7 linked regions of the Homo sapiens genome follow. The protein of the gene in region 1 interacts with the protein of each later gene in a biochemical or structural test. Each region holds a gene or a part of one and is shown in the gene's direction. Other genes may lie near its edges. The genes, in order: PTPRZ1, SNTA1, CARD11, MPP7, LNX2, LCK and PARD3.

Evidence for each region.
Region 2: the proteins of PTPRZ1 (region 1) and SNTA1 interact in a test that uses a peptide from one of them, tested with the Homo sapiens proteins (one large-scale study listed by IntAct).
Region 3: the proteins of PTPRZ1 (region 1) and CARD11 interact in a test that uses a peptide from one of them, tested with the Homo sapiens proteins (one large-scale study listed by IntAct).
Region 4: the proteins of PTPRZ1 (region 1) and MPP7 interact in a test that uses a peptide from one of them, tested with the Homo sapiens proteins (one large-scale study listed by IntAct).
Region 5: the proteins of PTPRZ1 (region 1) and LNX2 interact in a test that uses a peptide from one of them, tested with the Homo sapiens proteins (one large-scale study listed by IntAct).
Region 6: of the proteins of PTPRZ1 (region 1) and LCK, one has a biochemical effect on the other in vitro, tested with the Homo sapiens proteins (one large-scale study listed by IntAct).
Region 7: the proteins of PTPRZ1 (region 1) and PARD3 interact in a test that uses a peptide from one of them, tested with the Homo sapiens proteins (one large-scale study listed by IntAct).

Annotation. Positions count from the first base shown.
Region 1 is NC_000007.14:121,876,161-121,879,660, forward strand, and holds part of PTPRZ1 (receptor-type tyrosine-protein phosphatase zeta isoform 1 precursor), read left to right. Parts: intron 1-3,500. UniProt on the Homo sapiens protein: Protein tyrosine phosphatase that negatively regulates oligodendrocyte precursor proliferation in the embryonic spinal cord. Required for normal differentiation of the precursor cells into mature, fully myelinating oligodendrocytes.
Region 2 is NC_000020.11:33,437,264-33,440,763, reverse strand, and holds part of SNTA1 (alpha-1-syntrophin), read left to right. Parts: intron 1-1,737; coding exon 1,738-1,923; intron 1,924-3,500. UniProt on the Homo sapiens protein: Adapter protein that binds to and probably organizes the subcellular localization of a variety of membrane proteins. May link various receptors to the actin cytoskeleton and the extracellular matrix via the dystrophin glycoprotein complex.
Region 3 is NC_000007.14:2,935,868-2,939,367, reverse strand, and holds part of CARD11 (caspase recruitment domain-containing protein 11), read left to right. Parts: intron 1-536; coding exon 537-689; intron 690-1,335; coding exon 1,336-1,461; intron 1,462-2,133; coding exon 2,134-2,331; intron 2,332-3,500. UniProt on the Homo sapiens protein: Adapter protein that plays a key role in adaptive immune response by transducing the activation of NF-kappa-B downstream of T-cell receptor (TCR) and B-cell receptor (BCR) engagement.
Region 4 is NC_000010.11:28,293,065-28,296,564, reverse strand, and holds part of MPP7 (MAGUK p55 subfamily member 7), read left to right. Parts: intron 1-3,500. UniProt on the Homo sapiens protein: Acts as an important adapter that promotes epithelial cell polarity and tight junction formation via its interaction with DLG1. Involved in the assembly of protein complexes at sites of cell-cell contact.
Region 5 is NC_000013.11:27,565,030-27,568,529, reverse strand, and holds part of LNX2 (ligand of Numb protein X 2), read left to right. Parts: intron 1-690; coding exon 691-890; intron 891-3,500.
Region 6 is NC_000001.11:32,257,765-32,261,264, forward strand, and holds part of LCK (tyrosine-protein kinase Lck), read left to right. Parts: intron 1-3,500. UniProt on the Homo sapiens protein: Non-receptor tyrosine-protein kinase that plays an essential role in the selection and maturation of developing T-cells in the thymus and in the function of mature T-cells. Plays a key role in T-cell antigen receptor (TCR)-linked signal transduction pathways.
Region 7 is NC_000010.11:34,381,797-34,385,296, reverse strand, and holds part of PARD3 (partitioning defective 3 homolog), read left to right. Parts: intron 1-1,042; coding exon 1,043-1,168; intron 1,169-2,374; coding exon 2,375-2,757; intron 2,758-3,500. UniProt on the Homo sapiens protein: Adapter protein involved in asymmetrical cell division and cell polarization processes. Seems to play a central role in the formation of epithelial tight junctions. Targets the phosphatase PTEN to cell junctions.

The DNA of each region.
Region 1 (3,500 bases):
ATAACTTTCCAGACAAAAAATTTATCAGAATACATGAACCAAAACAAATTTTTCTTGACCCACTGAACAGGTGTATCTTATGGGAAAAACTACAGTGGCTTTCCTGTAAGGAGGCTTAACTATGAGTCATAGAGGAGAGGTAGATATTTTAAGAGCTTTTAAGGAATAATTTCTTCCAATTAATGAAGGAATTCAGGATCTTTGAATTAAGTGAATTATAGTGCTGCAAGGTACACTAAGTTCAAATGTTTAAGTATTATTATTAAATATGTAATGAATCAGATTCTGTACTTCTCAGTCACATCTTACTGCTTTAAGAGCCACATTAACAATAAATTATACCCAACTCCTCTGGAAGAATTAACTTCTTAATTTATGCTGGTTATAGAGTCTGAAATTCAATATGTTGTGACTCTCAGTTTGATCTATTTATCCTCTGAAAACAAATTGTAACCACATATAAAAAATATTCATGCCTTTTTCCCAAATAATAACTAGCCTCTATTCAGAAAATTAATTCCTTTTCATTGCAGAGTTGCAATTTTCTTTATTTCATTTCTCTCTCCTTTTTACGTATACTGTGGTTGCTTCCAGTCAGGGAAGTTTGCCAGGAGAAATCATTTCATTGATGAATTCATTTCTACTCTCATGTCTGCACTAGAGATTCAAGATCTTGCTTAAAATTTTATGTTGTGGGAATTTTGCTTCTGGCAAAAATTCAGGTTTTTCTGGAAGCATAAGCTGCGTTTTCTCATTCCCTTTAACTCCGAAAAGATTTGAGTACTGTCTAAAGTGAGAGATTTGCTTGACCACCCATTTGCTGACCGTTCAGACTGTTGCATGGAAATGGAACCCCCTCAGTCAGGACCAGAAGATCTCAAAGGAAGGCATAATTAAGAAGATGAGCCTGTGTTTCATTTTCAGTTACCATCTGCTCAAGTGTCTACTAGGTGCAGTTTCAGCACTGAGCATTTTATGTACATTTTCTCATTTCATTCTCCTCAAAACCCTTTGATATTGGTGTTTTCATCTTACACCTTTTACAAATGAGGGAACCCGGCACAGAGAACTCAGATAAGTTGCCTAACATCACAAATCCTGATTCAGCCTGTGTATTCCTTCCCAATCCAGAGCCTGAGGCTTTTCCTCTTTTCATTCCCAGGATCAATTTGCTGTTTGGCATTCACTAGCTTGCTTTCATGTGATGTGATGGTACATTTCACAGTCCCATTTGCTTTTCTGAGGATCCCTTTCATGATTTTGCCCATGTACTCTTGTATTACTTTTTTATCCTTTTTTGAAAATTAAGGCATAATTTACATTTTTACCATCTTGAAAGTTTTCACCGATGCATATGGTCATGTAGCAATCACTGTGATCCAGATACAGAATCGTTCCAGCCATGCTACTTTAACTACTCATTCACTAGATGTTCACTAAGTGCCCGACATCTGCAAGGCACCATGCTAGGCGCTGATAATTCAGCTATGCATCAACATACAGAGACTTAAACTCATGATGCTCACAACCCAGTTAATCTGATTCAATCCCACAATGAAAACTTTCTTTAAATCTTGTTTTAAAGATACTTTTTCTGTTCACAACTAGTCGAAAATAAGTCTTTTCCAAATATCTCTTAATGTGTTGAATATGTTAACTCTCAAATACTTTAAAATGCTTCCTGCTCCATTAAGAATTCCAATGGTAAAAGTCAGAGCCAATTTAAACAAGAGAGAGATATGTGTGTATATACATATATAAATGTATATATATGCATATACATAAAAGTGTATATATATATATGTGTTTGTGTATATATATATAAAATATATACATTTAAATTGTATTTCAACTTTTAGTGTCTTATTGAGATTAATTCCTAGAAGTAACTTCAGATTACAAAAGGAAACCAATTTTTCTCTGTGTTTAAAGAAATTAAAGAAATTAAAGAAAGAAAAAATATCATATAGCACAATCTTAAAACACTTGTATTTTAGAAATGTCCTGTTTAATACCATAGCCACTAGGCAGATGTAGCTATGTAATTTAAAATTTATTAAAATAAAACAATTCAGTTCCCTAATCACACCATCCACATTTCAAGTGCTCAGTAATCTGTGTGGCTAGTGGCAATCACATGGGACAGTGCAGACATGGAACATCTCCATCTGGCAGTGTTGTTTTGGAACAACAACAAAAAACGCTGGTAAAATAATGATTGATAGAACTCATGAGGAGTCATCAACTCAACTAGAAAAATTTCTAAAGTCATTGAAATTGTTTGAAGTGTTCGTGCATGTGAGTTAGTTATGGTTTGTGTTGTGTTAGCCTGCAAACATCCTAGAAACATGATGGGGCCTTTGGTAGAGCAGTAATAGGTGAAAAGAGTTCAGTGGCCACTTTGTAGCCTTTATGGACTGAGGTTGAACAGAAGAGATTAACTGCTGGTTCGGGAGTGAGTGCTCTGCTCCCATAGTACATTTTCCATAATTTGTTCTGTTATCCACTGTATTGTTTTTCAATTTATCTGTCTCCTTGACTCGACCACATTATTTGAGGGTAAAGAATCCATTCTTACATTCATCATTCATTCATTGTTAAATTCATTCATTGAAGAATTCAATGAAAAATTCAGTCAACATTGCATTCTTGAACTTAGCACTTACAGTAGGTGCCAATAAATCTTTAATGTATAAGGTTATAGAAAGATTGTACCATGAAGCTTCTTAGAAAAAAAAATAGTTGTTTGTTGTTGAGACTGGCCAATTTTCACTGGTCTTTCCCTCTTTTGATTATGATCTCAGTCCGGGAGTAAGGTCAGCATTCACCTTGACCTGTCCATCTTTAATGTCACTTCTGGTACGCGAACTTCACTTTCACTGATTCTCCCAGAAATACACGTAAGCATATAGGCATCCTCTATGAGGTTGGAGCTGTCATGAATGTGATTAATGCCTGTACAAGCATTACATAGATCCAGACACTATCTGTGCATGGAAAATAAAGTTCCTGTGATTGATACTGAGTGTGTACTTACAGAAGCAGTCTTGAGTGAGCTTTTAATTCTAGAGGAGTTGGCACCAATGAGTTTTGGATACATCCCAGGGGGCCAGAACATCAAGTCAGCTAGTGTGCCACTTTGTATGTGTACAAGTGCATGCGCCTGTGCTGCTCTGGTGTTGGGGAGGAGAGGGCAATGAGGGATGCAGGATGGTCAGTAATGAGTAAATAAAGTATCTTGAGCCCATGAACACTGTATTTTCAGTCAGCCAAAAGCTATCATATTGGTTTAAGTCTTCTCTAGTCAAGAAGGCCGTAAGAGATAGTGACACAAAACAGTTTTGAAAACCAGGCAAATGATGGGAAGTGCAGTTTTATCATGTGGATGTACGTGCTTTTGGAGTTTGTCAATAGTTTTATCATTAATCCTAGAGAGGATGTGCTACACAAGTTTAACTCTGCACATAGCAAATATTTGAACTGAGTTGAATTCAAATGGA
Region 2 (3,500 bases), on another chromosome or scaffold:
TCACTGCAATCTCCACCTCCTGGGTTCAAGCAGTTCTCGTGCCTCAGCCTCCTGAGTAGCTGGAATTATAGGCACACACCGCCATGCCTGGCTAATTTTTGTATTTTTGTTTTATTTTGAGATGGAGTCTTGTTCTGTCGCCCATGCTGGAGTGCAGTGGTGTGATCTTGGCTCACTGCAACCTCCACCTCCTGGGTTCAAGCAATTCTGCTGCCTCAGCCTCCTGAGTAGCTGGGACTACAGGCATGTGCCACCAGGCCCAGCTAATTTTTTGTGTTTGTATTTATTTATTTATTTATTTATTTTTTGAGATGGAGTTTCGCTCTTATTGCCCAGGCTGGAGTGCAATGGTGCAATCTTGGCTCATTGCAACCTCAGCCTCCCGGTTCAAGCAATTCTCCTGACTCAGCCTCCCGAGTAACTGGGATTACAGGCATGCGCCCCCATGCCCGGCTAATGTTTGTACTTTTAGAAGAGATGGGGTTTTGCCATGTTGGCCAGGCTGGTCTTGAACCCCTAACCTCAGGTGATCTGCCCATCTTGGCCTCCCAAAGTGCTGGGATTACAGGCGTGAGCCACCACGCCCAGCCATATTTTTTTATTTGTTTATTTTTTTATTATGTATTTATTTACTTTTTTGAGCAGAGTTTCACTTTTGTTGCCCAGGCTAGAGAGCAATGGCGTGATCTCAGCTCACTGCAACCTCCGCCTCCTGGGTCCAAGTGATTCTCCTGCCTCAGCCTCCCGAGTAGCTGGGATTACAGGCATCCGCTACCACGCCCAGTTAATTTTTTGTATTTTTGGTAGGGACAGGGTTTCACTATGTTGGCCAGGCTGGTCTCGAACTCCTGACCTTAGGTGATCCACCTGGCAGCCTTGGCCTCCCAAAGTGCTGGGATTACAGGCATAAGCCACCGCACCTGGCCCTTTTTTGTGTTTTTAGTAGAGGCAGGATTTCGCTATGTTGGCCAGGCTGGTCTCAAACTACTGGTCTCAAGTGATCCGACCACCTTGGCCTCCCAAAGTGTTGGGATTACAGGTGTGAGCCACTTTGTCCGGTTATTTTCATTTTTAATTTTTGTGCGTACATAGTAGGCATATATATTTATGGGTTACATGAGAAAATCGAAAACATTTAAGAAAAAGTGATTGAAGCACTTTGTAAGTTGCACAAACACTGGTGAACACCCAAAGCACTTAATCAAAAGATCCAGGGATCAAACTATAGCATTATGAATTTTGAAAATGATTTATTTAATTAATTAATTTATTGAGACAGGGTCTCCTTCTGCCACCCAAGCTGGAGTGCAGTGGCACAATCTCAGCTCACTGCAGCCTCGACCTCCTGGGCTCAAGTGATCCTCCTACTTCAGCTTCCCTAGTAGCTGAGACCACAGGTGCCTGGCTAATTTTTGTATTTTTAGTAGAGGCGGGGTTTTCCCATGTTGCCCAGGCTGATCCTGAACTCCTGACCTCAGGTGACCTGCCCACCTCAGCCTTCTAAGGTGCTGGGATTACAGGCATGAGCCACCGGACCTAATCAAAAATGATTTATTATTAGTGTTACTAGTGTCCCAAACTTCCAAGATTTTTCTCAGATTCCCTTTATTCTCCCATTGCCTTTTCCAGCACTGGGCTAGGCACCAAGGGAAGCCTTCAGAAATAATTGTGTCTTGATGTGACTCCCAAGTGTTGGAGTATCTGCCTAAGTCTTGTCCTCCTTCTGTACCTGTGCAGGCGGCCGGGAGAACAAGATGCCTATTCTCATTTCCAAGATCTTCAAGGGATTGGCAGCTGACCAGACAGAGGCCCTTTTTGTGGGGGATGCCATCCTGTCTGTGAATGGGGAAGACTTGTCCTCTGCTACCCATGATGAGGCGGTGCAGGTCCTCAAGAAGACAGGCAAGGAGGTGGTGCTGGAGGGTAAGCACTGACGTTCCAGGGTTCAGAGGGGCTGGGTGGAGGTGTTCCACTGCTTCTCTACCTCCCCCAGGCCTCAGAAGGCCCCATCCCAGCACTGGGGGCTGGGAGGTGGGCAGGACTGAAAACAGAAACAGAATTTGGGGACCTGCCTGAAGACAGTGTGGGGTGGTGGAGGGAGAGTTGGCATAGAGCCAAGCAGACCTGATTTGCATTTTCTGTCTTCCAGTCACTAGCTGTGTAGCCCTGGACAAGTCACTTCATTTCCCTGATCCTTAGTTTCCTCATTTGTAAAACAGGGATGTAGCTCCTGCCTTTCTGGGTTGTTGCGACTAGGGCAAAAATGTACATGGCAGAGTGTGCCAGCACCTGAGTGACACAGGGAGAGAGGGGTGCGGACTGGGGAAGGGGCAGGTCAGATTCTTTCCTGTGGGGCCTGGAGAGCTCTTGACTTCAGGTTCTTTTAGTGCCTGGGCCTTAAAACCCCAAGACCCATCCTCCTTTGGGAGAAGCCTTGGCTTTTATTTTACTTTATTTTTTTTTTGAGATGGAATCTTGCTCTGTTGTCCAGGCTGGAATACAGTGGCATGATCTTGGTTCATCGCAACCTCTGCCTCCTGGGTTCAAGTGATCCTCCTGCCTCAGCCTCCCAAGTAGCTGGGATTACAGGTGTGCGTCACCATGCCCAGCTAATTTTTATATTTTTGTAGAGACAGGGTTTTGCCATGTTGGCCAGGCTAGTCTTGAACTCCTGGCCTTAGGTGATCCACCCACCTCAGTCTCCCAAAGTGCTGAGATTACAGGCATGAGCCACCACGCCCAGAGGCCTTGGCTTTTATAGAGTAGGACATCAAATCCTTCCAGCCAGGATCAGAGAGGAGTTTTGTGGAGGAACCTTGGTTGAATGGCTTTCTCCACTGTTCCCTCACAGTGTGGTCTTGGGTGGGACCCTTGCCCTCTGTGGGCCTCGGTTTCCCCATCAGTTGTTACACGCCTCCTGCTGAGGTTGTCCCATGACCATCTTGTGCCATGTCTCTCAAGAGGTTTCTGCTTTGCTCAGCCCTTTCCTCAAACTCTGTCAGCTCTGGAAGCCCCGTGGGGGCCTGAGGAATGTGTCTCTGGCTTATGGCCCAGAACAGGCACAGGGAGGTGGCGGGGGCTGATGGAGAATAACACGGCCAGAGAAGCTGCTGAGTTGAGTCCCAGGCCCAAATCCTGGTGGGTTGCCTTGGTTTCCCTAAAGGAGTGTCCAAGAGGCCACAGAAGCAAATAGGTTCTCGGTCCTTGGTTGACCCAGATATAAAATAAAATAAAATTTAAATAAAGAAAATAAAATGTAAAGTTTTATTTTATATTTTAGGTATATCTATTTAAATGCCATGGATGCATTTTTTTTTCTTGTTTTTTTTTTTTTTCGAGACAGGGTCTTGCTCTATCACCCAGGCTGGAGTACAGTAGTATGATCTTGGCTCAATGCACCCTCCACCCCCCGGGGCTCAAACAATCCTCCCACCTCAACCTCCTGAGTGGCTGGGACTACAGATGCATGCCACCACACCTGGTTAATTTTTTTTTTTTTC
Region 3 (3,500 bases), about 120 Mb from region 1:
TGCCTCCCCACACTTGTCATCGCCGAGTCACTTGTGGGCACAGAGGAGGAAGTTGCTGAGGAGTGACATCCCAAAACATATCTACAGGGCAAGAAAAAAAACATGCATCCTCCTGCTCCCTCCAGAACAGTCCCCCCAGGAGTGGCTGCCTGGTATATGAGGCTCTGTTTCAGAGCCGAGGATGAACCCAGCTTCTCCAGAACAGATTCCTTGATATTTCAGGGGCAGCATCTAAAAAGTGTTTCGGGTGCAGCAACTGCTTCTCTGCGCTCCGATAAGCGCCAGGGAGAACAAAAGGCCCAGGATACGCCCAAGCAAAAGCCAGTTTTCTGCTTCTTTCCAGGCAATAAACTTCTTAAATGCTAAGCTTCTTAGAGACCCCAGGGGACATACATCTCTTCTTGCCTCTACCTTCCAGGCACAAAACCTTCTGCTCTGTCCGTATCTGTTGCTGGTTCTTCTGTCCCCTGCCCTCCAGGACCACCTGGCTCCCCACCCCGACCCTGACCCTCTGAAACCTCCTCCCTCCCACCCAGGCCGGGAAGCGCAGCCTGCCAGACTCAGACAAGGCCATCCTGGACATCTTGGAACACGACCGCAAGGAGGCCCTGGAGGACAGGCAGGAGCTGGTCAACAGGATCTACAACCTGCAGGAGGAGGCCCGCCAGGCAGAGGAGCTGCGAGACAAGGTGGGAGTGGGGATCGCCCGCCCAGCGGTGCCCTCGGCCGGCCCCCTTCACACCAGGGGGCAGTGGTGTGTGTCAGCAGGACCTCCCTGACCCCACACTCCTTTCCAGGGACTAGATCAGACCCCTGGCATAAATCCCCTGTACCTCCCAGTATTCAGCCCCTGGCAGAAGCTGCAGTTTATCAACCAGATGAGGGCCTGGGGGTGGGAGCAATGTGGGCAGAGGGGAGGGTGAGGGCTTGGGATTGGGGGAACCCACATACCTGCCAAGGTGTGAGTCTCAGAGCCTCACCCACACCTTGCGGATTGCAGGATCCCAGATGTGCCGGCCACCCTTGGGCATGTACAAGCTATTGCACCAGCTTAGCACCTGTGTCCCCCTCCTGACTGAGATCACATTGTCCTCCCCTATGTTACCTGGTCTGTAGTGGGTTCACAACAATGCTGGGTTGATTGGTCTCCTACCTTGAGCCCCAACAGTCAGATAGTCGGTTCCCAGAAGGGCAGGCCATGTCCTGACCATGCCAGCTTAGGGAGGGACAGGCCAGCTCCAGCCAGCTGGCGGGAAGGCACGAGCAGAGAACAGCTTTCAGTCCTGACCTATTGATTGCTCGATGCGCATATTGATTTCTCTGTGTGGTTCACAGTACCTGGAGGAGAAGGAGGACCTGGAGCTCAAGTGCTCGACCCTGGGAAAGGACTGTGAAATGTACAAGCACCGCATGAACACGGTCATGCTGCAGCTGGAGGAGGTGGAGCGGGAGCGGGACCAGGTACAGGCACCACCTGCAGCGTGCAGGGCGGCGAGGCTGCACAGCGGGGCCCGCACCCCAGACCACCGGCTCCTTCAGAGTGTTTTGTCCAGTGCAACATCACTGACAATGCAGGGATCACTCCTGAATCCATCTTTCCCATTTCTGTTCCAAAGATGAATTCTAAAAGATGAATTCCAAAAGGCTTTTTTGGAAGTCACAGGCGTTTGGGTAGCAGGGGGATCCGAGCTGGGCTCCAGCAGCTCCCACGACCAAGCATGGTTCTTAAATGTTGTGTGTTCTCTCGGGTGAGAGGATGGGTTCAGATCCAGCCCTGTCATTCATAAGGTGTATGCCCATAGGCAAGCTGCCACCCCTGACCTCAGTGCCCTCATCTGTAAAATGGGGATAATTACGGTAGCACCGCCTCATAGGGACAGGCTGTGGCCTTCCAGGGACACTGCATCAAAGCTCTCAACACAGAGCCTGCCACTAGCAAGGGTCGGACCATCGGCTCTGTGATCGCGTTAATGAAGAAGGTAGTGACTGACACGCCCAGGGGTCAGACTGCAGACGAGAGCCACAGACGATGTGGCTGGCCCCTGGGTTGGGATGATGCCTGTCCCTGGGCCCAGCTGGATTTGGCTGGGGTGCAACCCCCAAAGCAGCCTTCGTCCCGCTTCTCCCTGGCAGGCCTTCCACTCCCGAGATGAAGCTCAGACACAGTACTCGCAGTGCTTAATCGAAAAGGACAAGTACAGGAAGCAGATCCGCGAGCTGGAGGAGAAGAACGACGAGATGAGGATCGAGATGGTGCGGCGGGAGGCCTGCATCGTCAACCTGGAGAGCAAGCTGCGGCGCCTCTCCAAGGACAGCAACAACCTGGACCAGGTGGGGCGGGACGGGCAGGACCCCACGCCTGAAGCCAGGTGGGCCCTGGTGCCCACTGAGGGCTGTGGCCAGTCCCCACCTCCCCGTGGAGACCCACACCTGAAGCCAGGTGCCCCCTGGCACCCACTGAGGGCTGTGACCAGTCGCCACCTCCCTGTGGGGCCCCAAACCAGAAGCCAGGTGCCCCCTGGCACCCACTGAGGGCTGTGACCAGTCGCCGCTTCCCTGTGCAATGAATGGCTCCTTGTCCTTTGTTTAGTTTTGTTTTGCTTTTGAGACAGGGTCTCACTCTGTCGCCCAGGCTGGAATGCAGTGGCACTATCACAGCTCACTGCAGCCTCAAACTCCTGGGCTCAAGCAGTCCTCCCACTTCAGCCTCCTGGGTAGCGGAACTAAAGGCACACACCACAATTCCTGACTAATTTTGTAATTTTTTTGTACAGACGAGGTCTCACTGTTTCCCAGGCTGGTCTTAAACTCCTATCCTCAAGCGATCCTCCCGCCTCAGCCTCCCAAAGAGCTGGAATTACAGCCGTTTGCCACTGTGCCCGGTTGGCTCTTCATATATTTGAAGCCGGAAGTTCCCTCCCACGCCCAGCATAATCCACATCTTTTACTGTTGTGTTTGTGTCTGTTTAGTGATGAGTGGAAGCCACTCATTTTGAAGTTAGAAGATGCAGGGTAGGGCTGGGCACAGTGGCTCATGCCTGTAATCTCAGCATTTTGGGAGGCTGAGGTGGGAGGATCGCTTTAGGGCAGGAGTTCAAGACCAGTCTGGGCAACAGAGCGAAAATTTTTAAAAATTTAAAAAATTAAAATTAAAAACATAAATAAGAAGATGCAGGGCGCCAGGTGCGAGGGTTCACGCCTGTAATCTCAGCACTTTGGGATGTCGAGGCAGGTGGATCACGAGGTCAGGAGTTCAAGACCAGCCTGACCAGCATGGTGAAACCCTGTCTCTACTAAAAATACAAAAAAATTAGCCAGGCGTGGTGGTGCGTGCCCATAGTCCCAGCTACTCGGGAGGCTGAGGCAGGAGAATCGCTTGAGCCCAGGAGGCGGAGGTTGCAGTGAGCCGAGATCACGCCACTGCACTCCAGCCTGGTGACAGAGCAAGACTCCATCTCAAAAAAAAAAAAGGCAAGCTTGACCTGGCCACTTCCTTGCTG
Region 4 (3,500 bases), on another chromosome or scaffold:
ATCCATTTTGGGTATAGAACTGGCAATGTTAGTGGAGATTAAAGACTAGCTGGTACGACTGCATTTTGCAAGATATTTTGAAGACAACTTTGGACTTTGAAAATGCAGGATAGGAATCTAAGTGAGAAAGTCTTTCAGTGGTTGGGGTGTGTGTGTGTTCACTTCAGTTGCACTGAACTGTGGGTGGGGAGGAGAGCAATAGTAAATTGTTTCTTACCAGAACACTGCCAGTTCTTAGGGGATTTGGTGGAGATTTGGGAGAGAGAAAATAAATAGGATTCAGCCCTTCTAGGAAGGTCATTCTTGGCAGTGCCTTCAGCCCTTAGGAGAGCGTGGGCATGGAAAAGGTGGGTGGTTGTAAGTAGCCAGGCAGATTAAAAGGCTGCTTCCTAGAGTTTTCTTTACCTTTGATGACCTTAATCAGGTCATTAAGCATTTTAAGACAGGTTTATAGCTCTCCTGTGGTCCAAGCTTGGACTAAGTACTCCTTAATCTTCAATTTTATGTTTTAAATTTTTGGAATAAGTAGAAACCTGAAATTTATAAAATTAATGACTTGAGTATGCGAGTGAATAGCTTCAGAGAGTTATTTGGCTTATGGAAGATTTCAGATTATGGTAGGTGCTTGAATATACTTATTTCTCATACTCTTTCTTCCATCCCTTTAACAACAAAAAAAGGCCTTATTAGAAATAGGCAAACTTGAATACACATAGAGCTGTACTGCTCAAATTGAGTACTTGAGTTGGGGAGAAAAGTCTCCCGGTCTAGATATAGCTTTGAAAAGAGAAGGATCAGGTAGGATGCCGTACACGGCAGGTGTGTGCAGGGACAGGGATAACGTTAACCCCTTTTGCTGTGAATATTGTCAGAGGGTCTGATGTGTAATTAGGCATTCCTTAGCTTCACTCCTGATAAAAACACACTCTTGGACAGTTTCTCTGTATGTGCACTTAAAGCAGTTTGAATCTTGTTAATCAAATATTTCTCGGGGTTGTAACTTCTTTTTTTGGCATTGGGAAGACTGTTGAAGTCATGTTGTAAAAATTTGGAGTTGAGCCTGGGATCAAAATTTGGAGTTATGGCCCAAGATTTATCAAGCTTCTGCTGATATTCAAAATATTGTTTTTTTCTCTTCCTATTATGGCTTCTGATTACTTCTGAAGAGTGAGTTCAGACCTCTGTGCTCTAACGCTCATCAGAGTACCCTTTTTGTACATAGTATAATCAGGATAGAGATTAGGCATTTTGTCAAGTTTGGGAGAAAGAAGTTGAGCAGTGAGGAAATGAACTAACACTGTTTTCGTTTCTTCATAGTCATTTTAAATAGGATACAAATTTTATATTTTAGAAGTTTCAAAATGGTAGTAATTTCACCTTTCACATTATGCTTAGTATGAAAAATTTCTACCAGTGGTTCTCAAACTTTAGCATACCTTGGGATCACACGGAGGGCTTGTGAAACCTTAGGCAGCTGCCTTCCAGCCCCAGAATTTCTGATCAGTCGGTCTGGGAGGGGAGGTCCTGGCGATTTGCATTTCTAATAAGTTCTAAGGCCATGTGCTACAGCCACTGCAGGGGCCAGCCACTCTAGGGGGAAACGTAAGTGTAGTGGTTAACACTTTGAAAGACCTGGGTTTGAATCTCTGCTCTGCTGCTTTCTAGTACTTTGACTTTAGGCAAGTTTCTTAACCTCTGTTGTTCCGTCTCTAAAGTGGAAATAATATAGTATTTTGTTGTGAATGTAAGTGGGCTCCAATGTGTAGAAGCTCAGGGAACAGGGCCTTGCAGATTGCAAGCATGCAATAAATGTTTTCTTTTATCCATAAAAACAGTACGTATATAAAATAAATAGGATCCTGCATCTTATACAATTGAAGCAAAGACAGAAAATTTAATACTTAACCTCATTTCCTGGCACTGTGCTGGGGAAAAAATATGATTACTCAATTACTTTTTAAGGAGTGAAGGAAAAGTTTGTGGATCCTAGTAATTTTCCAGAAACATTTTTTAGAGGCATAGCACATTCATATCGATGCTGCCTCCTCCCTCTTCCCCTTCAAAAAGTTTGCATTCTTTAATCACCGTATGTTGGACTCTCACAATAACCCTTATAGTTTACATTTTATATAACAGGTATTTTGAAGGTTGCTTCTGGGAGCTGAATGACAGGAAGTACCTGAAAGTCATCTTTAGAACACACTGTCGCCTGTACTATGACAACTTTGTATTTGATGACCTTGAACGCAGTTCTTCTCGAGACGGAGTCTTGCTCTGTCCCCCAGGCTGGAGTGCAGTGGTGTGATCTCAGCTCACTGCAGGTTCCACCTCCCGGCTTCACGCCATTCTCCTGCCTCAGCCTCCAGTTTAAAACATATTTAAACTGGACTACAGGCACCCGGCTAATTTTTTTGTATTTTTAGTAGAGACAGGGTTTCACTGTGTTAGCCAGGATTGTCTGGATCTCCTGATCTCATGATCCGCCCGCCTCGGCCTCCCAAAGTGCTGGTATTACAGGCGTGAGCCACCACGCCCAGCCCTTGAACGCAATTCTTTGGGATCTCATCTCTCGGCTTGCTGAATGCCTGGTTCATTTTCTTTCTGCAGACCTGCGGGATCTCACCTCTGGCTATCCTTTCATTAGTGAAACCCTCTTTCCATCACTTTCTGTCACTATCACTGTCTTACTTGTTAGCTGTTAACACTCTCTTATCATTATCTTATTTGTTTCCTTTTTATTGTTTCCTTCACTAGGACATAAACCCTATGAGGGTAAGGGCTTGATCTTTTGCTACTCGGTCGCTAGGATGGGATGCAGTTCCTGGTATGTAGAGACTGAATACCTGCTGGTTGGGTGAAGGGACCTGTGACGCGGAGCTGCCCCGCTCCGCTCCCTCCCCAGCTCAGGGGCTCGGACTGGAGTTAGCACTCACTTCATGGCACACTGTCATGATTGGTCCGTGTAGAGTCTCCCACCTTATTTTATTGTATCTTTCCCCTTCATCACCTATCCCCATTCATGTTCTTCCTTGCCCCCAGGGGACCCTCTCTCTGGCATATGCATAATTCCCTTAAGTACGACCAGATTGTTATCTCATTGACACTTTCACCAGCTGTTGCTCCCTGCATTCTTGCTGGCATGTGGCATTTTCTGACCTTATAATTTTTTCCAATCTGATGCAACAGATGGAGCAATCCAGCACAAAGTGATATGTTATTGTTCTTATTTGCAGCTATCTGATTACTAATGCAGTGGAATATCCTATCGTATACTGTGTGTGTTTTTCCTCGGTTGAGTTCGCCATTTATATATCCTTTGCCTCTTTTTCTGTTAGCTTTTCATATCTGTTTCCCATTTTTCTGCCCTAATTTATAGCAGTTTTCTTCTTTTTTCAGTCTCTCGTTGGATTTTAAATGGTATACGCATCTTTTGTTTTTCACCTGTCAGATTTTTTCTTTGAAATCTTTCATTAAACGGAATCTTTAATTTTGTTATGATC
Region 5 (3,500 bases), on another chromosome or scaffold:
ATACAACCAGTAAATGACTGGGTTTGTATTTGACTCCAAGACCATGCATCTCACCGTTATACACCTCTGGTACCAGCCACTGCTCTGTTACCCACTAGGAAGTTAACAGAAGGCCCGTAGTCATGGATCTTGGGCATATCATGGTAGTGGGCCCTTGATATTTCCTTTTAAAAATGATTTTCTTTTTCCAAGCTCTACTACAAATTTGAATTTTCCTTGCCGCAACTATGCGCCTTCTTCATTTCCTACGTCTCCGTTCAAGACCCACCTCTTCTTACGAGCTTGATGTGGCTACTCTCTCAACACCTGTGCTGTTTCTATGCCACAGAGCTAGTGTTTCCTTTGTACTGCCTCTCATTATGTACAGTTGTTTCGTGGTCCAAATTTTCTCTCATCAATGAGGACAGAATGACTTTCTTTTCATATTTCTTAATCAGATCACTGTGTCGTCCCTAGTGATCTGATACATAGTAGCTATTTATTATTTACTGATCAGTTTTAGTAGAGAAAATTTTTAGATAATCTTAACAACAGATATTTTGTCATTTTGTTTCTTATCCAGTGATACTGCTTAGCTGTTAATCATGTATTAATGTGACATACTTACCTGAAGATAATCAGAATATAAATTGTTGGGTTTGTTTATTTTTTTAACATCTGTTTTTGTCTGTCTCATTTTTAACTTGGCAGCCACACAACAGCCACTTAGTTTACCAGAAGGAGAAATCACCACGATTGAAATTCATCGGTCCAATCCTTACATTCAGTTAGGAATCAGCATTGTGGGTGGCAACGAAACACCTTTGATTAACATTGTCATCCAGGAGGTCTATCGGGATGGGGTCATTGCCAGAGACGGGAGACTTCTTGCTGGAGACCAGATTCTTCAGGTATCAGTTTTAATTATTCTGTTAACTTGTGCCTTTTTGTTCCATTCTTAACACTTAAACCTTAGAAAATTGTGCTGTTTTGGAACCTAAATTATATATAGATTAGTTTTACTGTTTCTATATGCAAAACATCAGAATTTATGTGTAATTTGTGGTATTTTCCCATATACACAGAGTATTTTTTCTTCCTATCTTAATTTTCATTCCTGCATGCGATGTGGCTTGGCACATGATCTCAGGCTTGCTGAGCTAGCTAGACTCTTCCTTGGGCTGACTAGCCTCTTCCTGCTTGGACTTCTTGAATGACTGTTCAAGGGTCACCTTCATCCATGTTGAAATTATCATCTCATTGGTATTATTTTATACCCAGTTTTCCCATTCATTACCTTCATTGTTGGATTTATCCTTTTCTATACAGACTACTAAAATCTAGAAAAGAAGGAACCATGCAGCACTCATAATTTATACCACAGATTATAAGATAGAGTTCAGAAATCTTGCAGTCATCTCCTATCAACTCCCTAATGCACTCTCCTCAGCAAACACTCTAACTCTGCATTTTCAATAATCCCCTTCGCTCCCCTTACTGTTTTCCCTTTCAGAAGATGATCTTTAAGAAGAAACAGGTATTCTCCAGAAATAACTAGCATGGGACAAGATATTTTATTAGAGGGCAAGTTGAGATGAGGGGAGGAGGATGGTAAGAGTTCTACAATCCCGGAGTTGATGTTAATACCGGCCTGGACCATTTTCATCATACAAAGGTGATAATAATTGAAGCTTAAAAACGGATAACTTCTAGGAGAGAGAGGAAATATTCATGAACAAGAAAAAATGTCTCCTGTCAACCCAAGCGCAGGGACTCCTCTCTCTCCTTGGATTTGTGGTTCGGTCCTTCACCATGACCTGTTGATATCTACCCCCTACTTCCATTTTCCTGCCACTTCTTGAGTCTAGGACTTCTCTTCTTCATATCTAATTTAGTAGAATACCCCATCATATACTTCTGCCTCCCAACTCTCCTCCCTTAAATCTGAAACAATCACTGCCAGGTTAATACATCAGTAACCCTGCTTGCCTTGCAAAGGTTCAACTAGGAGGTCAAGTCCAGACTGATTAATCTAATAGTCAGGGTCCTCCACGGTCTCTTCTACAACCTGTCTTGTTAATCTCAATTCTTCATTTCAGGCACACCAGCTCATTCATTTCTCACAACATTCTAGGCACTATACTAGTTGCTGGTGGTACATTTCAGAGCAAAATACTGACCTGTCCTCGTGGAATATACAATCTAGTGGAAGAGCCAGACATAGCAGTCTTCTTCCTTCCCTGCAAACACCTTATTCCCACATTGCAGCCTGTCCTCATCTCATGAGCCAGTTTGTTCACCTTCATCCTTAAAGCTTTTGTTCAGCCATTCTCCCCCATACTGATTCCTCCTACATTAGTTATTATTGGCATTCATCACTTTTCTCTTCATCACTTGGCACGTGATGAGTTACAGAGAATTGTTTGAACATTTTACGTATGTAGGCATGATCTAAGGTAATTGCAACCACCCTAATGGTACAGATTATGATACAGATTTCTCATAGCTTGTAGTAAGTGCTCAGAAAATATTTGCTGAGTCAATAAAAGAGTGAATTTGAATATAAGATGCTGTTGGGAATAGCCATCTCCTTTATTAAAAGAAAAACTTGGTTAGGATTTTTAGTTGTTGAAAAGAAATCTCTAGACTTGGGGCTATGGGAGTCTACAAAGGCAGCCAGGATTGACCCTACTAGGGATTCTTGGGTTTGATTTCCACTCCCGCTTGTATGCTGCTTTTCATGGTGTATTATTCCTGAAAATAATTAACACCAAGCCTAAAACCTTTCCTTCATTACCCCTAGGCATGGCTGAGACAGACTGAGCTTTCAAACAGTGTTTTTTTTACCAAATACTTAGATGTAATAGACGAATACAGGAACATAACTAATCCAGCTCATATAAAATCAGATTTCTGATCCTGTCATAGCTAGCTATTTAGTTATCCTAGCTGCATTTTATGATATTAGTACTTTAGCTGCACAGGCTGGCACAACTTGTAGGACCCCTTGTATTATTTACATCCTAGCTCCTGACTTGATTTTGCAGAGAGCGACTCTTACAGCTCATTTCCCAGGTTCATCCTCCCAGACATCTTGACACTTTGGTGGTCAGGACCAGGAAGGGCAGATAGTCCTTTTCTGCAGCCCACTGAGTGTTCTTTGACTCTCCCACTTCTGGGCTTTTTAGCTGAAATGTAAGTGTACACTTATTTTTTGCTACTAGCCCAGTATTGTTACAAATGTTTTTATTTATATTTCTTTGAATATAACAGATTTGTTTAAGTTTTTTTACTAATACATTTCATCAGTGGGCTTGTTTCTATTTTAGAGAATGGTTCATTAACACTACTGAATCTTTAGACCTCAAAAGATTGTAATTATCTGAAATTATCAACCATATTTTTGGGAATTAATTCAGTTATAAAGTCTACATTGTAGAAATTCCACTGCATTATTACTGTTTATGGAAACCTGTATACTAATAACTCCAATAATGGCAATCTTACATCTAGTTTAATGA
Region 6 (3,500 bases), on another chromosome or scaffold:
AAGGGATTATCAGGTATATTCACGTTACTGGTTGGGGGACTTCTACTAAAATACCAATTAGAATAATTGCTCTATATCCCTTATTTATAGCGATACTTGACTAGCAGAATCAGTTCTATGTTCAAGACACTCCCAATTTGTGAAAATAAATCCATTTTGTTTGCATCCAAAATAATGCTTTTTTTTTTGTTCTCTCTGTGTCGAGAGGCTACAGAGTTCATTCAAAAAAGGTATTAAGCCAGGTGTGGTGGCTTGCACCTATAATCACAGCATTTTGGGAGGCCAAAGCAAGGGGACTGCTTGAGCCCAGGAGCTCAAGACCAGCCTGGGGAACATAGGCAGACCCCGTCTCTACAAAAAATAAAAAAATTAACTGGGCTTGGTGGTGTGTACCTGTGGTCCCAGCTACTCAGGAGGCTGAGGTGGGAGGATCACTTGAGCCCAGGTGGTTGAGGCTGCAGTGAGCCATGATCATGCCACCGCACTCCAGCCTGGGCAACAGAGTGAGATCCCATCTCTAAAGGAAAAAAAAAAAAAAGAGAGAGAGCGGAATTAAAGCCAGGTGCAGTGGCTCCTGCCTGTAATCCCAGCTATTCGGGAGGCTGAGGTGGGAGGATTACTTGAGGCCAGAAGTTTCAGGTTGCAGTGAGCTACAATCATGTGCTGTACTACTCCAGCCTGGGTGACAGAGTGAGATGTGAGACTCCATCTCTTTAAAAAAAAAAAAAAAAACCAGGCTGGGCGCAGTGGCTCACACCTGTAATCCCAGCACTTTGGGAGGCGGAGGCAGGTGGATCACAACATCAGAAGTTCGAGACCAGCCTGACCAACATAGTGAAACTAAAATTAGTTTCTACTAAAAAACACGTCTCTACTAAAAATACAAAAAATTAGCTAGGCATGGTGGCGGGTGCCTGTAATCCCAGCTACTCGGGAGGCTGAGGCAGGAGAATCGCTTGAACCTGGGAGGTGGAGGTTGCAGTGAGCTGAGATCACGTCACTGCACTCCAGCCTGGGCAACAGTGCGAGACTCCGTCTCAAAAAAAAAAAAAAAAAAAACCCAGCCTGTGTGACGTGGTGAGACCCTGTCCCTACTAAAAATACAAAAATTATCCAGGCGTGGTGTTGCCCACCCATAGTGCCAGCTACTCAGGAGGCTGAGGTAGGAGGATCACCTGAGCTATGGGAGGTCGAGGCTGCAGTGAGCCATGATTGTGTCACTGCACTCCAGTCTGGGCCACAGAGTGAGATACCATCTCAAAAAAAAAAAAAGTATTATGTATTTAAACAAATATGAAAAAGGAGGTAGCCCAGGACACATCCCTGATTTACCCACTAGAAATTAATTACTGACGGGGCACGGTAGCCCATGCCTGTAATCCCAGCACTTTAAGGGGCTGAGGCAGTGGATTGCTTAAGCTCAGGAGTTTGAGACTAGCCTGAGCAACATGGCAAAACCCTGTCTCTACAAAAATTAAAAAAATACAAAAATTACCCGGGCCCTCTCATTCACAGCTTCTCAGGTAAAAAAAAAAAAAGAAAAAGAAAAAGAAAAAAAAAATAGCTGGAGGCTGGGTGCGGTGGCTCATGCCACACCTGTAATCCCACACTTTGGGAGGCCAATGCAGGCAGATCACTTGAGGCCAAGAGTTCTAGACTACCCTGGCCAACATGGTGAAACCCCATCTCTACTAAAAATACAAACATTAGCCAGGTGTGGTGGCACACGCCTGTAGTCCCAGCTCCTCGGGAGGCTGAGGTAGGATAATTGCTTGAACCTGGGAGGCAGAGGTTGCAGTGAGCCGAGATTGCACCACTGCACTCCAGCCTGGGCGATAGAGTGAGACTTCATCTAAAAAAATAAAAATAATAATAATAATAATAATGATAATAATAATAGCCAGGCGTGGTGGCACATGCCTGTTGTCCCAGTTACTCAGGAGGCTGAGGTGGGAGGATTGCTTGAGCCCGGGAGGTCGAGGCTTCAGTGAGCTGTGATTTTGCCACTGCACTCCAGTGGCACAAGAGAGCAAGAGAGCAAGAGGGCAAGACCCTGTCTCAAAATAAAATAAAATAAAGAAAGAAATTATTTGCCATGCCTGCTAGCCCTGATTCTTGATATTGCTTGATATTGTCATGAGGGTTCTATGTGGGCATGAATAGCTAAGGCTCTTTATTGAACATGGGCAGCTTTGTCATTAATCAAGTCTGGGTCGGGGCAAAGGCGAAGAAAATGTTTTAAATGATTCATTTTTTTTTAATTTTATTTTTATTTTTATTTTATTTTATTTTATTTTTGAGACAGAGTCTTGCTCTGTCGCCACGCTGGAGTGCAGTCCCGGGTTTAAGCAATTCTCCTGCCTCAGCCTTCCGAGTAGCTGGGACTACAGGTGTGCACCACCACGTTCAGCTAATTTTTTGTATTTTTAGTAGAGATGAGGTTTCGCCATGTTGGCCAGAATGGTCTCGATCTCTTGACCTCATGATCCACCCACCTCAGCCTCCCAAAGTGTTGGGGTTACAGGTGTGAACCACTGCGCCTGGCCTTTTATTTTTATTTTTACAGAGACAAAGTCTCACTATGTTGCCCAGGCTGGTCTTGAACTTCTGAGCTCAAGTGATTTTCCCATCTCGGCCCTAGGATTACAGGCGTGAGCCTCCAGCCCTGGCTATTCTAAATGATTTCTGACAGATTTTGCCATGAGGTGGTCCAGAGTACAACAATGGTCTGCAGTAGAATAGTCTGCTTGTTCTTTTTTCTTTTTTACTTTTTGTGCTCTACATGTTCAGAGAAACTGAACTAAAGAAATGATCCCTAAAGGAAGTATAGTCTTGTCTGCTGTTTTTTGTGTTGCTTTGTTTGTTTTGTTTTGTTTGAGAGAGGTTCTTGCTCTTTCCCCCAGGCTAGAGTACAGTGGTATGATATTGGCTCACTGCAACCTCAACCTCCTGGGCTCAGCGATCCTCCTACCTTAACCTCCTGAGTAGCTAGGACTACAGGCGTGCACCACCACACCTGGTTAATTTTTGTATTTTTTGTAGAGATGAGTTCTCACCATGTTGCCCAGGTTGGTCTTGAACTCCTGGCCTCGAGTGATCCTTCCACTTTGGCCTTCCAAAATGTTGAGATTACTGGCGTGAGCCATTGCATCCGACCACCTGCCTGTTCTTGATGTAAAGCATTGGCCCAAGAAACTCAGCCACGAAGCTGGCACACATTTTGGACAAAATGTTCAATAAATCAATAGGTCTATAGTTGGAGGAGAAAAAATGTTAACTTAAAAATTTTTTTTAATTTAATTTAATTAATTTTTTCTTTTTTTGAGACAGGGTCCCCTGTCGCCCAGACTGGTGTGCAGTGGTATAATCACGGCTCACTGCAGCCTTGACTTCCTGGGCTCAGTGATCCTCCCACTTCAGCCTCCTGGGTAGCTAGGACTACAGGCAAATGCCATCACGCCATCATGCTTGGCTAATTTTTTTTTTTTTTTTTTTTTTTT
Region 7 (3,500 bases), on another chromosome or scaffold:
CTGGGCATGGTGGCGCATGCCTGTGATCCCAGCTACTCAGGAGGCTGAGGCAGGAGAATCGCTTGAACCCAGGTGGTGGAGGTTGCAATGAACCAAGATCATGCTATTGCACTACAGCCTGGACGACAAGAACGAAACTCCATCTCAAAAAAGAATAAAATAAGACTAAAAAAATAAAAATAACAGCAATCAGAGCTAGGTTAAGACCCCTGTTGCTTATACTGTGATTTAAAGAAGTATTTCTTATTTGTCCCAGTCTGTATAGAATGTCCTGTCAGTTATGAAGTTAGTGTTCTAGAGCAAGTAGGGGGTCTCTCAAAGGTCATTCACACTTTTCTTTCAACCTGAGTGAGTACATATGTGGAAGAGATGAATGGTGATTGGCATTATTTGAACCTCTCACTGACGTTTTTCTGTTGGGTCATTTGTTTTTCCAAATGGGAATATTGACAATAAATGACTTACTTTTGGGAGACCTGACAGGTTTTGAAATTCACAATACTAAGCACTATCAAATTCAAATGCAAAGCATGGAAACTCCTTTATTCCTGAAATCTTTCCTATTATCATTCTCAAACCTGCAGTGCAATGAGGTTAGCTTTTCCTCATTACCTTTACTTTCACAGAAAGATGGGAGTTGCAGTCGTCTTTTAAGCTAGCGTGCCAGCTGGCTTAAAACAGAAAATTGCCCAAGCCATTCAAAAATACATGCTTATCCATCCTCCACACTGCAATACCCACTCAACCATTAGGCGGGCTCTGTTTGGGGCATTTGTAAACAGAGAGAGTGTTATAGCTTGTTCTAGAAACATAATACTGACCAGCCAGAAACTGATTTTTTACATTTATGGAAGGGATGCATTTTTACATGTCATTTTAACGTTGTGGTTTTTGTCTGTCATTTAAAAATGTATGAATAGTCATTTTAACATGCTCCTTTGTAAGGACATCTTTGTAAATATAATAACAGCATTAAAGTGGTAAGGCAGTGTGCATGGTGGAGATATTACATGTGTAATCATTTGCATTCTTAATGTTCCAGAACCCTGGGGTTATTAGTAAAACGATTGGAGAAAGGTGGTAAAGCTGAACATGAAAATCTTTTTCGTGAGAATGATTGCATTGTCAGGATTAATGATGGCGACCTTCGAAATAGAAGATTTGAACAGTAAGTGTGTGCTCGCTGCACTTCTGTTCTTACTTGCATTAGGCATGACAGAGTGCAGTCAGTTGAAATGCTTCAAACATGTCTGTGATCTCAGTCTGTATACTGGAGAGGAATATTTTCTGCCATTAGCTTTTAAAAATTTAAACATACTCAGTAATTAATACCATTAGACTATATTTCAAAATGTCCTCTGATGGATATAGCTCTTCTTAAGTATTATGGCCCCCATTTCAACTTTACAATTTTGCTGGTTCCTCTCCTTTTGGAAAATTGACAGTGTGCCCATTTTTATCATACTTTAACTCACCCGTCCACCTTTGCTGCACACAGTTTCTCTAGATACAAACAAGCAGATAAAGCTGTTTGTATCTGCTTGAGGTTGTATTCAGATACACTTTATCTTGGGTTGTATTCAGATACAATATTGGGTTGTATTCAGATACACTTTATCTTGATTCAGGCCCTTAGTCAATGAAAAACATAACAGTTGGCCAGTTCTTATAAAACAAGGCAGGAGCAAACAGAACTCTTAAGAACTTGAGGTCCTGACCAGGGAACCAGCATGAGAAAGAGCTGCTTCCCAGGCTGGTTGTATGGGTGCACTGTGACCCACAGCTGTCAACATTTTGAATTATTGAGCCTGGATTGCTGTTCTTGAGATTTTTACATATACCAACTTAATAAATAATTAATAGTTACTTTCTATAGTCTTCTAAGTGTGTGTGTGTGTGTGTGTGTATTTTAAAAATTTTAAATACACATCTAACCCAATCCAATATTCTAAATATAATTATAAAGCTCTGTCTTTCTTTGAAAACTTAAATTGAAGTATTTTGTAATGTCTACAAGTTGTATTAGACAATGTTGTAGAGAGAATGTTCCATTTGGTTTCTATTATTGAAATTATAATACTTGTTATACTTAAAACATGTTTAATGATTTACAGTTGAGAGGACAGAATTTTATCTGTAGTTGTAGATAATTTTTCTATTTTTATTGAGAGAATGAGAAATTTATATTTGAAGAAACAGCTATTGATAGATCAGAGCTGCAAACTTGATTGATAAATGGGTTATTAGAATTTTGCTTTTCAATTTCAACAGCCTGTCAGTTCTTATTGCTTAATTAGTAAACTTAATTAAGCTCATAATATCTTCTAGTCTGCCAGTCTTAATTTGCTAATTTTCTATTCTTTCTCAAACCCAGAGCACAACATATGTTTCGCCAAGCCATGCGTACACCCATCATTTGGTTCCATGTGGTTCCTGCAGCAAATAAAGAGCAGTATGAACAACTATCCCAAAGTGAGAAGAACAATTACTATTCAAGCCGTTTTAGCCCTGACAGCCAGTATATTGACAACAGGAGTGTGAACAGTGCAGGGCTTCACACGGTGCAGAGAGCACCCCGACTGAACCACCCGCCTGAGCAGATAGACTCTCACTCAAGACTACCTCATAGCGCACACCCCTCGGGAAAACCACCATCCGCTCCAGCCTCGGCACCTCAGAATGTATTTAGTACGACTGTAAGCAGTGGTTATAACACCAAAAAAATAGGCAAGAGGCTTAATATCCAGCTTAAGAAAGGTACGACCTATCCTGTTTTTGTTTTGTGGAATTTCTTTTCTTAGCAGCAACACACAAGGGTAGAAATGGAATTTATTTTAAAAGTCAACCTACTAACCCAAAGCACCCTGAGTCTTATCTAATTATTTTGTGAAAGAACTGATAGATTTTTTAAAGTTACTTACCTTTTAACATATTTCAAATTGTATTTCTTATATGTCTCAGGTTTATTTTGCTCTGTAGAAATTAAAATGTAAAAGTGCAGAGAATAAGACTATGTCTATGAGAAGAAGATAGCAGTTACTGTAGTAAAATTTTTGATTGTGAAAGAAAATGGCTTCAGGACATTAATATCAAATGCAGAACAATAGTAAGGATTTGACCATTTTGACTGCCCCATTTGCTGTATAAGTCCAGCCCTCAAGGAGGACTTTAGAGGTAGTGCACGTCAATCTCAGTATTTGATGTGGGGAGGGACCAATTTGTTTGAGGCTGCCAGGAGTTTATAGTAGGTTGCTGAGAAGCCAGGCCATTGACTCTTGTCTTTTGTTTTCTTGTATTATTGCATTACTTCCCTTTCTTTTTTTTCTTTTCTTTTCCTCTCTTTTCTTTTTCTTTCTTTTTTTTTTTTTTTTTTTTTTTTTTTTTGAGACAGGGCCTTTCTTTGTTGCCCAGGCTACAGTGCAGTGGTGCAGTCATAGCTCACCGTAGCCCGCAACACCCCATGTCAGCCTTCCAAGTGCTGTGACTAGAGGCACATGCCG